Linked DNA regions of Homo sapiens: region 1 is linked to region 2. The links come from fine-mapping of genetic effects on gene expression. A gene starts in region 2. The other region holds a variant in brackets. All regions are shown on one strand. Distances are from middle to middle. Region 1 overlaps HDAC7 (histone deacetylase 7). Region 2 holds the start of HDAC7 (histone deacetylase 7).

The links. PIP is the estimated chance that this variant, and not a neighbour inherited with it, causes the effect. A credible set is the group of variants that fine-mapping cannot tell apart.
Region 1: its variant is the best candidate, but not a certain one, in a credible set for the expression of HDAC7 in monocytes after Pam3CSK4 (Quach 2016, PIP 0.60).

Annotation. Positions count from the first base shown.
Region 1 is chr12:47,793,045-47,798,405 of GRCh38, reverse strand. HDAC7 (histone deacetylase 7) reads left to right here. Exons shown (of 26, transcript NM_015401.5): 5 at 187-298; 6 at 907-1,022; 7 at 1,264-1,389; 8 at 2,108-2,199; 9 at 2,390-2,500; 10 at 2,639-2,819; 11 at 3,026-3,222; 12 at 3,473-3,646; 13 at 4,818-5,037. Among named protein-coding and RNA genes, the nearest start is that of SLC48A1, 22 kb to the right of the region's middle. RefSeq lists a silencer at 681-880. The variant G/A (reference allele first, on the strand shown) is at 2,145.
Region 2 is chr12:47,817,573-47,822,933 of GRCh38, reverse strand. It overlaps HDAC7 (histone deacetylase 7), which reads left to right and starts at 3,031. Exons shown (of 26, transcript NM_015401.5): 1 at 3,031-3,167. The coding sequence starts at 3,149. RefSeq lists enhancers at 1,269-2,190, 3,529-4,102, 4,820-5,361 and silencers at 2,741-3,080, 3,221-3,300, 3,311-3,620.

The DNA.
Region 1 (5,361 bases), 25 kb after region 2:
GGGGGATGTGGGGGTGGGGGGTGGTGTCTGGAGGCTCTAGGGAGGGGTAGGGCCTCGGGCTTGGCTCTTGCCTAGGGAGTCCCTGGGACGCCTCCTACTGAGGATGGGGACAGGGCAGTGGCCAGGTAGTGCCACGAGGCCGCCTGTCCACCCACCTCCAGCCCCCTCCTGACTCTGCCCCTACAGGTGCTGTAGCCAGCAGCGTGGTCAAGCAGAAGCTAGCGGAGGTGATTCTGAAAAAACAGCAGGCGGCCCTAGAAAGAACAGTCCATCCCAACAGCCCCGGCATTCCCTACAGGTAACACCCTCCTCACCTGCCCTCCTGTCCCCACATGCACCCTCCACCCCCGCCCCCGTGTTAGCCATGAGCACACACACTTGCCTCCTTCCTCCCCAGTTGCCACAACCAGTCCTTACCCTTCCTCTAAACATAATGCCCCCGAGCCCCTCTCTCAACTGATACCTGCCCTCCTCTCTTTAAATTCTCCCCACCCCACCTGAGCCCTTCTCACACACACACACACACACACACACACACACACACACACACCCTACTGGCTTTTTTCTTGCACATGAGCCCCTTCTCTCTTTATATTTTCCCTGAGCGCAAAAATGTCCTGGTTCCCAGAGCAGGTTCCTAGTGCAGGTGACAGAGCCCCCAGTGGGCTCTTCACCCACGCACCAAGCACCTGGCTTCTATGCCTAGGTCAGAGCTCTGCACTATAGCTGCTGGAGCGGACAGGCGGCCCACTGCTGCCACCTGGAGATGGTCCCCATTCCTACCAGCCCCACATTGCCCAGCCCTGCCCGCTGCAGCCTCCCCCTCAGGTCCCAGGGCCCGTGCTCAGGGCAGTGCCCGTGCAGTGTCCCCACACCTCTGAAGCAGCCTTGGCACTCGTTCTGTAGAACCCTGGAGCCCCTGGAGACGGAAGGAGCCACCCGCTCCATGCTCAGCAGCTTTTTGCCTCCTGTTCCCAGCCTGCCCAGTGACCCCCCAGAGCACTTCCCTCTGCGCAAGACAGGTGAGCTGAACAAACAGGCGGACCTTTCAGGCAAAGGAAGGGGGAAGGGCCTCGGACATGGGGGAGGAGTGTGCAGGGGTGGGCGGGCTGGGCTGGGCCAGGAGATCATCGGTAGGCTAGGATCTTCTTTCTAGTTCTGCCTTCTCTTTCCTTGACCGATAGAGATGACTGGGACTGAGGGGTTAAAGGGTGGAAAAAAGAAGGGTGGTGGGGGCCTGAGTGACGCTGGTGCTCCCTGCAGTCTCTGAGCCCAACCTGAAGCTGCGCTATAAGCCCAAGAAGTCCCTGGAGCGGAGGAAGAATCCACTGCTCCGAAAGGAGAGTGCGCCCCCCAGCCTCCGGCGGCGGCCCGCAGAGACCCTCGGAGGTGAGGGCCGGCTGAGCCAGTGCGGTTGCCATCCTCAAACCTGGCTGGTCTTGTCCCTTTGGGTCAGGCCCCACCTAGACAGGGGTCCCCTCCTTAGGACTGCCATGCGTGGTTGCATGGGGGTGTCCCACACACTTGCCGAAGCGGGGGAGTTGGGGCTGAAACCCAGTCCCTGCTCTGTTAGCTAAGGTGACATCTCCCAGAAAAGGGGGCACCCTTCAAAAAATTATGCAAAGGTGCTGTAGGCCAAAGGTGGCCTGTCTTCTTCCTGCTCTGATGGGAAGAAAGCAGGAGGCCGGGCGCGGTGGTTCACGCCTATAATCTCAGCACTTTGGGAGGCTGAGGCAGGTCAATCACCTGAGGTTAGGAGTTTGAGACCAGCCTGGACAATATGGTGAAACCCTGTCTCTACTAAAAATACAAAAATTAGCCAGGCACGGTGGTGCATGCCTGTAGTCCCAGCTACTTGGGAGGCTGAGCCAGGAGAATCGCTTGAACCCAGGAGGTGGAGGTTGCAGTGAGCCGGGATCGTGCCATTGCACTCCAGCCTGGGCAACAGAGCAAGACTCTGTCTCAAAAAAAAAAAAAAAGAAAGCAGGAAGCAAAGGTGCTCGTTAAGGAAGGGGGTGCTCCCGGGTCTCCTGCACCAGGCGGCCTGGCTGTACCCTCCTGCCCACCCTGGCCTCTGACTGCACTTCCCTCTCTCCCCAACCCTCAGACTCCTCCCCAAGTAGTAGCAGCACGCCCGCATCAGG[G/A]TGCAGCTCCCCCAATGACAGCGAGCACGGCCCCAATCCCATCCTGGGCTCGGAGGTAAGGCCTTGCCGAGACTGGGCTCTCCTGGGGCAGTTCTGAGGCTCAGCCTTCTTCCAGCAGGCGGCCCTACCTGGGCTGGGGCTGCAGGGTCTGGGCAGCCCCTGCCAGAGCCTCCTGGGTGTTCTGGGGAAGGTGCGCCGGGGTAGAGGTCTGGGACCGGTGACCCTCGCCCTGCTCCCTATGGCAGGCGCTCTTGGGCCAGCGGCTGCGGCTGCAGGAGACTTCTGTGGCCCCGTTCGCCTTGCCGACAGTGTCCTTGCTGCCCGCAATCACTCTGGGGCTGCCCGCCCCTGCCAGGGTGAGTGGCTGGGGTGCCCACCCCCACTCCAAGCCCCCCCAGCTTCTTTCACTCCCTTTTCTTGCTGCCTCACCCCATCATCTTCATTGTTCTCTGCTGGAATCTTCTTCCCCGTGACTTCTCCCGCCTCTCCCCCAGGCTGACAGTGACCGCAGGACCCATCCGACTCTGGGCCCTCGGGGGCCAATCCTGGGGAGCCCCCACACTCCCCTCTTCCTGCCCCATGGCTTGGAGCCCGAGGCTGGGGGCACCTTGCCCTCTCGCCTGCAGCCCATTCTCCTCCTGGACCCCTCAGGCTCTCATGCCCCGCTGCTGACTGGTGAGTCTGCTGCTTCTTCAGGGAAGGGGCTGGGTCCCTGCACCCTGCTAAGAGCCAAGCTTGGGATGGACCCATCCTTCCTCCCCATCTCTGTCCCCCTGTCCTGCGCATTGCCCTGCTGCACCCTGGCCCCCCACCCTATACCCTCGCTTCCTTCCATTGCTCCCTGTGGTTCCCTCCTTATTCCACCCCCCGATTCTTTCCAGTGCCCGGGCTTGGGCCCTTGCCCTTCCACTTTGCCCAGTCCTTAATGACCACCGAGCGGCTCTCTGGGTCAGGCCTCCACTGGCCACTGAGCCGGACTCGCTCAGAGCCCCTGCCCCCCAGTGCCACCGCTCCCCCACCGCCGGGCCCCATGCAGCCCCGCCTGGAGCAGCTCAAAACTCACGTCCAGGTGATCAAGGTGAGAGGAATTGGGCAGTGGAGGTATTGAGGGAGTGTTTAACTGGGGACTTAGGGGCCAAAAGAAGAGGGGTACTTAGAAAGGGCAGGGAACTGGAGGGCAAAAGAGGGGGATGTGGCTTCTTGGGGCCCAGAGCTGCATGGCAGCTGGAGTCCTAGCAAGATGACTGGCTGCCTGGCCCAGCCCACCACCTCCCACCCCATGCCCCTCGCTCCACCATGGCTTCTCAGCCAGGTTCTCCCCTCCCCAGAGGTCAGCCAAGCCGAGTGAGAAGCCCCGGCTGCGGCAGATACCCTCGGCTGAAGACCTGGAGACAGATGGCGGGGGACCGGGCCAGGTGGTGGACGATGGCCTGGAGCACAGGGAGCTGGGCCATGGGCAGCCTGAGGCCAGAGGCCCCGCTCCTCTCCAGCAGCACCCTCAGGTATGGCAGTCCCCACCTGCCCCTCAGAAAGTGTCCTCAGAAGACTCTGGGGCCTGGCATAAGATGGGGAAGGGAGGGAGATACGACATCAGTGCAACAGGCAGCTCTAGGACCCATGGTTGCCCTATAAGATCCTGGGTGCTGGATCCACACTAAGGTGTAGGCACACACACACATGCACACTCACACACCCATACACACACATACACACAACAGCTTGCCAGTCTCAGGTGAAGCATGTCCCTTTTCCAGGAAGGAGTCTGTCCTTTCCTGGAGCCACACATAGTCCTGCCCTGGTATGTCTCCCCTCTATCCAGAAAGGTGGCTAGGGCCAGAGGTGGGATGGAGCCAGGCTCCAGCGTGTCCAGCAGAATGCTCTCACTGTGGGAATCAAGACCCAGTGCATTAGCTTGCCGGAGCTGTTGGGATACAGGCTGGGCGCCTTAAACAGCAGGCATTTACCATCTCACAGTTCTGGAGGCTGGAAGTCAAAATCGAGGTGTTGGTGGAGTTGGTTCCTTCTGGGGGCTGTGAGTGTGAGGGCAGGGGCTGTTCCCGGTCTCTCTCCTTGGCTTGTGGATGGTCATCTTCTTCCTGTGGCTTCATGTGGTTTCCCTCTGTGAATGCCTGTTCAGATTTCCTCTTCCTATAAGGACAATAGTCATACTGGGTTAAGGCCCACCCTAACGACCTCATTTTAATTTGATTACTTCTGTTTGTAAAGACCCTATCTCTGAATAAGGTCATGTTTAGAGGTACTGGGGGTTGGGACTTCAACATATAAATTTGAGGGTGGGGAACATAATTTACTCCATAACACATGATGACAGGCCACACACATGTTCTTGAACAGTTACATAGTCCAGGACAGGAGGACATCCTGGTCAGCACAAGATCCAGCGCCCCTCCCCTGGTTCCTGGCTTTGGAGCCCCAAGGGCCCGGGGAGCTGGTGGAATGGGTGGTCAGTCTGGGGTGCAAACCTGTCAGGGGGCTGCAGGGGACAGGGGGCTTAGAGAGTCAAAGGCCAGAGCCCCACTGGACAGCAGGTCTAGGTTTATCCTGGAATCTCTCTAGGAAAGGGGCCTGCTTGGCAGTTCCCAAGACCTCAGGCAGAAGTAGAGGGAGCAGGACCCTGAAACACTGGAGACCAAGGCCCCATCTTTCCCCTAGGTGTTGCTCTGGGAACAGCAGCGACTGGCTGGGCGGCTCCCCCGGGGCAGCACCGGGGACACTGTGCTGCTTCCTCTGGCCCAGGGTGGGCACCGGCCTCTGTCCCGGGCTCAGTCTTCCCCAGCCGCACCTGCCTCACTGTCAGCCCCAGAGCCTGCCAGCCAGGCCCGAGTCCTCTCCAGCTCAGAGACCCCTGCCAGGACCCTGCCCTTCACCACAGGTGAGACCGGGAGGAGGGTGGCGGGTGGAGGGAGGGGCTCGGCTGCACGAGTCCATGTGGGTGTCTTGGTGTCACTTGGGACATTTTTAGAGGCCACAGAGTGCTTAGCCTTGTTAGGCCCACGTAGTACCCATGGAGCACATGGAACAGCTGGTTATTGCATTTGGCCGATGAGGACCAAGGCTCACGAAATCTAAGGTGACAAGCCTGTGGTCAAATAGCAAGTGGTAGTCAAGCCAGGATAAGAATTCCAGTCTCCTGCCAATGCACTCAGCCCTTTTAAAAAATGATATTTATTACTGTTGCTCTGCTTGTAAAAAGAGC
Region 2 (5,361 bases):
CAAGTAGGCCCAGAGTCCCAAAGGGAAGCAGATTGGGGTGCCCTCAGGCTTTGTGCTGGCCGGAGACTCTAGGGAAGGCTCAGGAAGCCAAGGCACGTCTTTTGGGGCCAGTCTCTTCTGCTAGGTGTTCAGCTGAGAAAGCTATGAGAGGCCTGGACTCAAGAGCTTTTTAAAAAAAGGCTCCCCACGGTAACCAGGCTAGAAGAGAGAGAGGTAGCTTGCATTTCTCTGTCTCATGTCTCTAAGGTTCTTGGAGGCTTTCTAATTTATCCTGGTAGGGGACATGTGACTTAGAAACTGGCTTAGGACTCTGCCATGAGGCGGGGTCTGGTAAGTAAATCTGGCAGGGGAAGGAGAGACACAGTCCAGCTTTCCCAGATGCAGGTTGCACATGCTGTCTTTTTCTCTGACTATATGTTGGAGGCAGTGAGTCCTGGTGTGTAGAAAGCCACATGTTGGGCACTGTGTGGACAGACAGGCAGGGAGATAGCCTCTTAATTCAGATCACTCAAAACTCAGTGATGAGTTTAAAAAGAGAAAGAAGACTCACAAATAAATGTATGCACAATGCACATGGTAGAAATGAGCATAAAAGGGCCTGGCTTTACTACAGAAATAGCTACAGAAAAGCTACGGATATGTGTGTGTTGGGGGTTGGGATCAATTGTGGAGCTAGACAAGGGAGATAGCAGGCATGTCGCTGGGGGTCTGCAGTAACCAAGCAGTTTTTCTGGAGTCTGTGGACACCAAAGAGGCATTTGGAAGGAGGATGATCTGGCTTGGAATTGAGGGCTGGGGATGACATACCTAAGGTGGAACAGCATGTGTCTTGGAGAGTCAGCATGGGTAGTTATGGGGTGAAAGAATGTACTGTAGGTGTCCAGCTGGAGAAGGGTTCTTGAAAGTCATGAACATCTGTCCCAATTCAACAAATAACTCACATCAAGTTTGAATTCTGTGCAAGACACTACAAGAAATGCACCCATGACCAAGGCAGTAGCTGGACTCAGGGATATCCACTCTTGAATGCTCTTGGAAGGAAGAGAGTTGAGACAAGTAGACTAGGTGGGCGAAGGTCAATGTATAAAGACCACACAGTTCAGGGAAGAATTCCTCTTGGCTATGGGAATCCGGGAAAGCCTCCCGGAGAAAGTGGTATGCCACTTTCTTTTTCTTCCAGTCCTTCCTTCCTTCCTTCCTTCCTTCCCTCCCTCCCTCCCTCCCACTAGATAGGGAGTGGGTCTTGAGGATTGGAAAGATTTCAACAGAAGGAGAAAGGGGCTGGGAGGACATTTCTTTTGGAGGCAGCATGATGAGCGAAGGCAAGGGAGTGTGGAAGCGTGAGGACAGGATGGGAAGCAGCTAGCAGCCCAGTCTGGCAGAAATAATGATAGTAATAATAGTGACTAACACTACTGAGCCCTAAGTACCAGGAGGCACTGGGCAGGGATGTGTATGGAGTGTGGTGCCAGGTTGTAGGAGGACTTGAATGCCAGGAAAGGCTTTTGGGAGGGTAAGTTAACAAGCGCAGAGGGGTTGGATCTGCCTGCCGAAGGAGAACTGGGACAAGGAAAGGGGCTGAAGTAAGAAGTCCCACGCTGAATATGCCGGTAGCAACAGATAGTGAGTCCCGAGCTGTGCCTGAGGGAAGGGAATAGAATCTATGGTTTGAAGTTCACCGCCAGCATGGCCAAGCCCTCCTAGGCCACTGTGGGCTCTTGCTTCCAATCAGACATGACTCCACCTCTGGGGCTGCCTCAATTTTTCCTTCTCTGGATTCTTGGGGTTTCTTAGGATTGCGGGAGATAGAATGGGGTCAGGGGAAGCTGCTCCTTGGTTTACAATGGTGGCGCCTCACGCTGCAGAGAGCCCAGTGTTCCTGCGTGGTGGACCTCTCCCCTTCCTAGGAGCAGCTCCAGATTGCTGGAGGCAGACACGGCTGACCGGCTAGCCCAGGAAGCACAATGGCGAGGTCCTTAGCCCCTGACCCCTGAATCTGACCTTCTCTCCAGCTAAAAGCGGAGGGAGAGGCAGGGAGGGCCACTGCCTAAAGCCGGCCCTGAGCTGAGTTTATTAGCTGAGGGAGGGCTGGAGGCGGCTGCATTCCGACTCACAGACTGGAACATTTCTGTGATCCGCTGTAATGCACTGGGGGACACTGGGCACATTGCTGAAGTTTGACTCATAGGGACCGGGAGGGGGAAAGAGGGGGGTTGTGGAGGGAGAGGAATGGGAGGAAGAGAGGAAGAGGAGAGGAGGGAAGGAAGTCCCTTGAGAAATTTCTTTAAAAAAAGAAAACTTTCAAAATCTGCACCACCCCCACACCCTTTTTCTTTTAATAGGAACAGGCTGGACCCTTCCGTTCCCCTCAGCAGGCATGGTGTGTGTGTGGGGGTGCCAGTGGGGGAGGGCTGGGCAGTGATTCAAATCAGATCCTGGAACTTTCCTGAGGCAAGTCGTGCTTATGTGTGTGTGTGTGTGGTGGGGGGTGTCCGTCTGGGATTCCTTGTATGGGACATGGGACACCACGCGTGTCCCACTGTGCCCGCGTGTGGCTGCGTGCTTGTGGGCTGTACGGGTATGTAGTGTGTGCACGGGGGTCCACCCCGAAGCCCCAGTGTGTGCTGTGTAAATGATTCTGCCCCTTGTAAACATGGATGCGTGCTCGTGTACGTTGTGTATGCGAGGGTGCGTGCGCCCAGGTAGCTGGGTTTCCGGGAATTGTGCACGGCTCGGAGCGCCTCGCGGCGGCTGGGGCTCGGAGCCGCGGCCGGCGTTCCGGGTTCGGCGCTGCCTCCCCGGCAGTGCGCCGCGCCCCGCCGCGATCTGGCCGCGCGCGGTGTCTGCGGCCCGCCTGTGCGCCGCGCGGTGCAGTGTCTGCCGGGGTGGTGTGTCCCAGGGCCGCGAGCGCCTGCCCCCTCCCTCCCCTCCCCCTTGGCCCGCTCTCAGACTCAGATAAAGCATTTCCTTCCATTGTCATCCTACCCGGCCGGCCGGGCTGCCAGGGCCCTCCCCCTCCCGGCCCCCTCCCTTCCTCTCGCCGTCTCACAGTCGCTCTGCAGCCTCCGGCGACTGGGGGGATGTGAGGCCGGCGCCCCAGCCCCCCGCCCCGCCATGAGCCCCCCGCTCTGAGGGCCCCGGCCCCTGGATGCACAGCCCCGGCGCTGGTGAGTACTGGGCGGCCGCCCCCCGCCCCGCCCTGCGCGCGGCACCCAGCGTCGCCCGCCCAGGCTCGGCCTCCGGCCCTGGCCCCGGCTCCGGCTCCGGCTCCGGCTCGGGCTCCCGCCAGCCCCGCGGGCCCAGCCCGGCTTGCGCCCCCCGACCGCGCCTGTCCCGCCCGGCTCCGCGGGGCTCTGGCAGGCTCCGGGTCGGAGCTGGTTCCGGGGGCCGGAGGGCTCGGGCCTCCCGCGGGGCGCCCACATCCGCCCGCCCCGGGGCAGCTACAGGCCCAAGGGAGGGAGTTGGAGGCCCCGGCCGCCGGTGTGCGGGCCCCACGTCCCATCACCCCTGTTCCCGGGGAGGACGAGCCGAGGGACCGGGGAGGGAGGGACGGCCGCGGTGGCCCGGCGAGGGGGCGGTGCTCCGGGGCGGAAGGTTTGGAAGCGCGAGGGCAAAGGGCAGGACCCACTGAGTTGGGGCTGGGCTTTGTGGGGCTGGACATCAGCGCCCCCATCCCGTGGAGCCGGGCAGGGCCCTACTCAGATCCTTCGGCGGGGAAAGAGGTCCCTTGGAGGGGTCTCTGGCTGGGAGGTTTCTCTGAGCATTGCCCCCCATCCTTGCTCACCCATCAGGGTGAAGAGACACCTGTGCCCTGGTGAGCTGTGGAGGTCAATGCCGGCAGCGGCGCGGGAAGCGGGGCGCCGCAGGCTGTGTGAGGGGTGGGGGACAGGATGTGCACCCCCCAGGCCTGGGGTCTGTTGGTGTTGGGGAGTGTGAGAGCAGGCGGCAAATTTGGCGGATGGGCTGGGTTCCCACGACCAGAGTTTCTAGGCCTGTGGGCCAGGAGAGAGCCCTCTGGGGCCCGCAGGCCACCCAGTGCCCCACCCCCATTGCTTCCCGCTGTGGCTGCCCGTTTGGGTCTGACCTCCCCAGCCACGGCTGCTCCTCACTCCTTCTCCCCGCTGGCTGTCTTGCGCACCCAAAGGCCTCCCCCTGCATCTGGACACTGGCTGTCTCGCTGCCAACGCTCCCTGCCCACTCCCCTAGGCAACATCTGCCTGAGGCCCAGCTCTGCCTGCCGCTTTCTAGGGTGAGAATGGGGCATCGGCCCTCAGCGGCCCTGCTGGGAGCTCAAGATCAACTTCTCAGCCTGTTCCCTGGACTTGCATCTGGACCTGTGGGACCTTCCTCAGGACCCCTATTCAGCTATAGGGCTGGCAGGAGACTGTGACTCAGGTCCCTGCCCTCCAATGAGACGCTTTGGCGGCCCTTTCCCCCTCCCAGGACTCCATAGGCTGCTAGGCTGCCGCTACCCATGGGTTATTAAGTCATTTTCTTCTTCTCTGCAGTCATTTCTGAGGGAAACTAAGGCACAGAGTAGTCCCAGTGAGTGGTACCCAGCCCAGTGAACCTAGACTGGAACCAGGTCTTGGACCTATTGGGACTGGTCCTCTGCCTTTAGTCCCCTGATGTCCCTCCTTGCCCAGCAGGGCCAGGCTCAGAGGCAAGCTCAGAGCTGCCTCCTGATGTTGCACCTGGAATGGTCCTGGTGCAGTGTTCTCCAGAGGCCTCTGTGTCCCTTATTCGGCGGGTGTCTCTGTGGCCACCGGGTCTTACAGTGGGTTTTGGGGCAGGGAAGTTTGCATGTCTAAGCTGTTCACTCCACTTTGACACTGAAGTTCAGTTTCCCCATCAGTAAAATGGGGAGAAAATTCCAAGCACACTTCTCAGAGCAGAGCAGAAGAGGTTGACTATGGAGAGGAGAATGAAGGTACTGTGCTATTATCCACCCCCTCCAGTTTGCTTAGGGATAATGGACCTCAGCTTTAGTCCTTGGTGGCCTCTTGGCATGGAAGCTGGAACTTTCTCAATTCTGATATAAAACCCTTGAGCAAGAGAGAAACTCATGTGTGATGGGGTAGGGAGTGGGGACCCTCTGGTAGCTGTGGGCAAGCATGCCCAAGGACTTGGAAGACAGAAGCCTGTGGAACCCCATCTCCTCTTTGCCTTCTTTCTCCTGGCCTTTCATTAAGGGCTGGTAATTTTGAAGTCGGCAGGGGCCTGAGAGAAGGTGAGCTAATGCAAGGCCCAGGGTCACACAGCCAGGGAATGGCAGGCGGAGGGGGCCAGAACCAGGCCTTCTCACTCTGCCAGTGCCCATTCTGCTGGCCCACCCTCCACAGCTTGGCTCTCCCTGGCCTG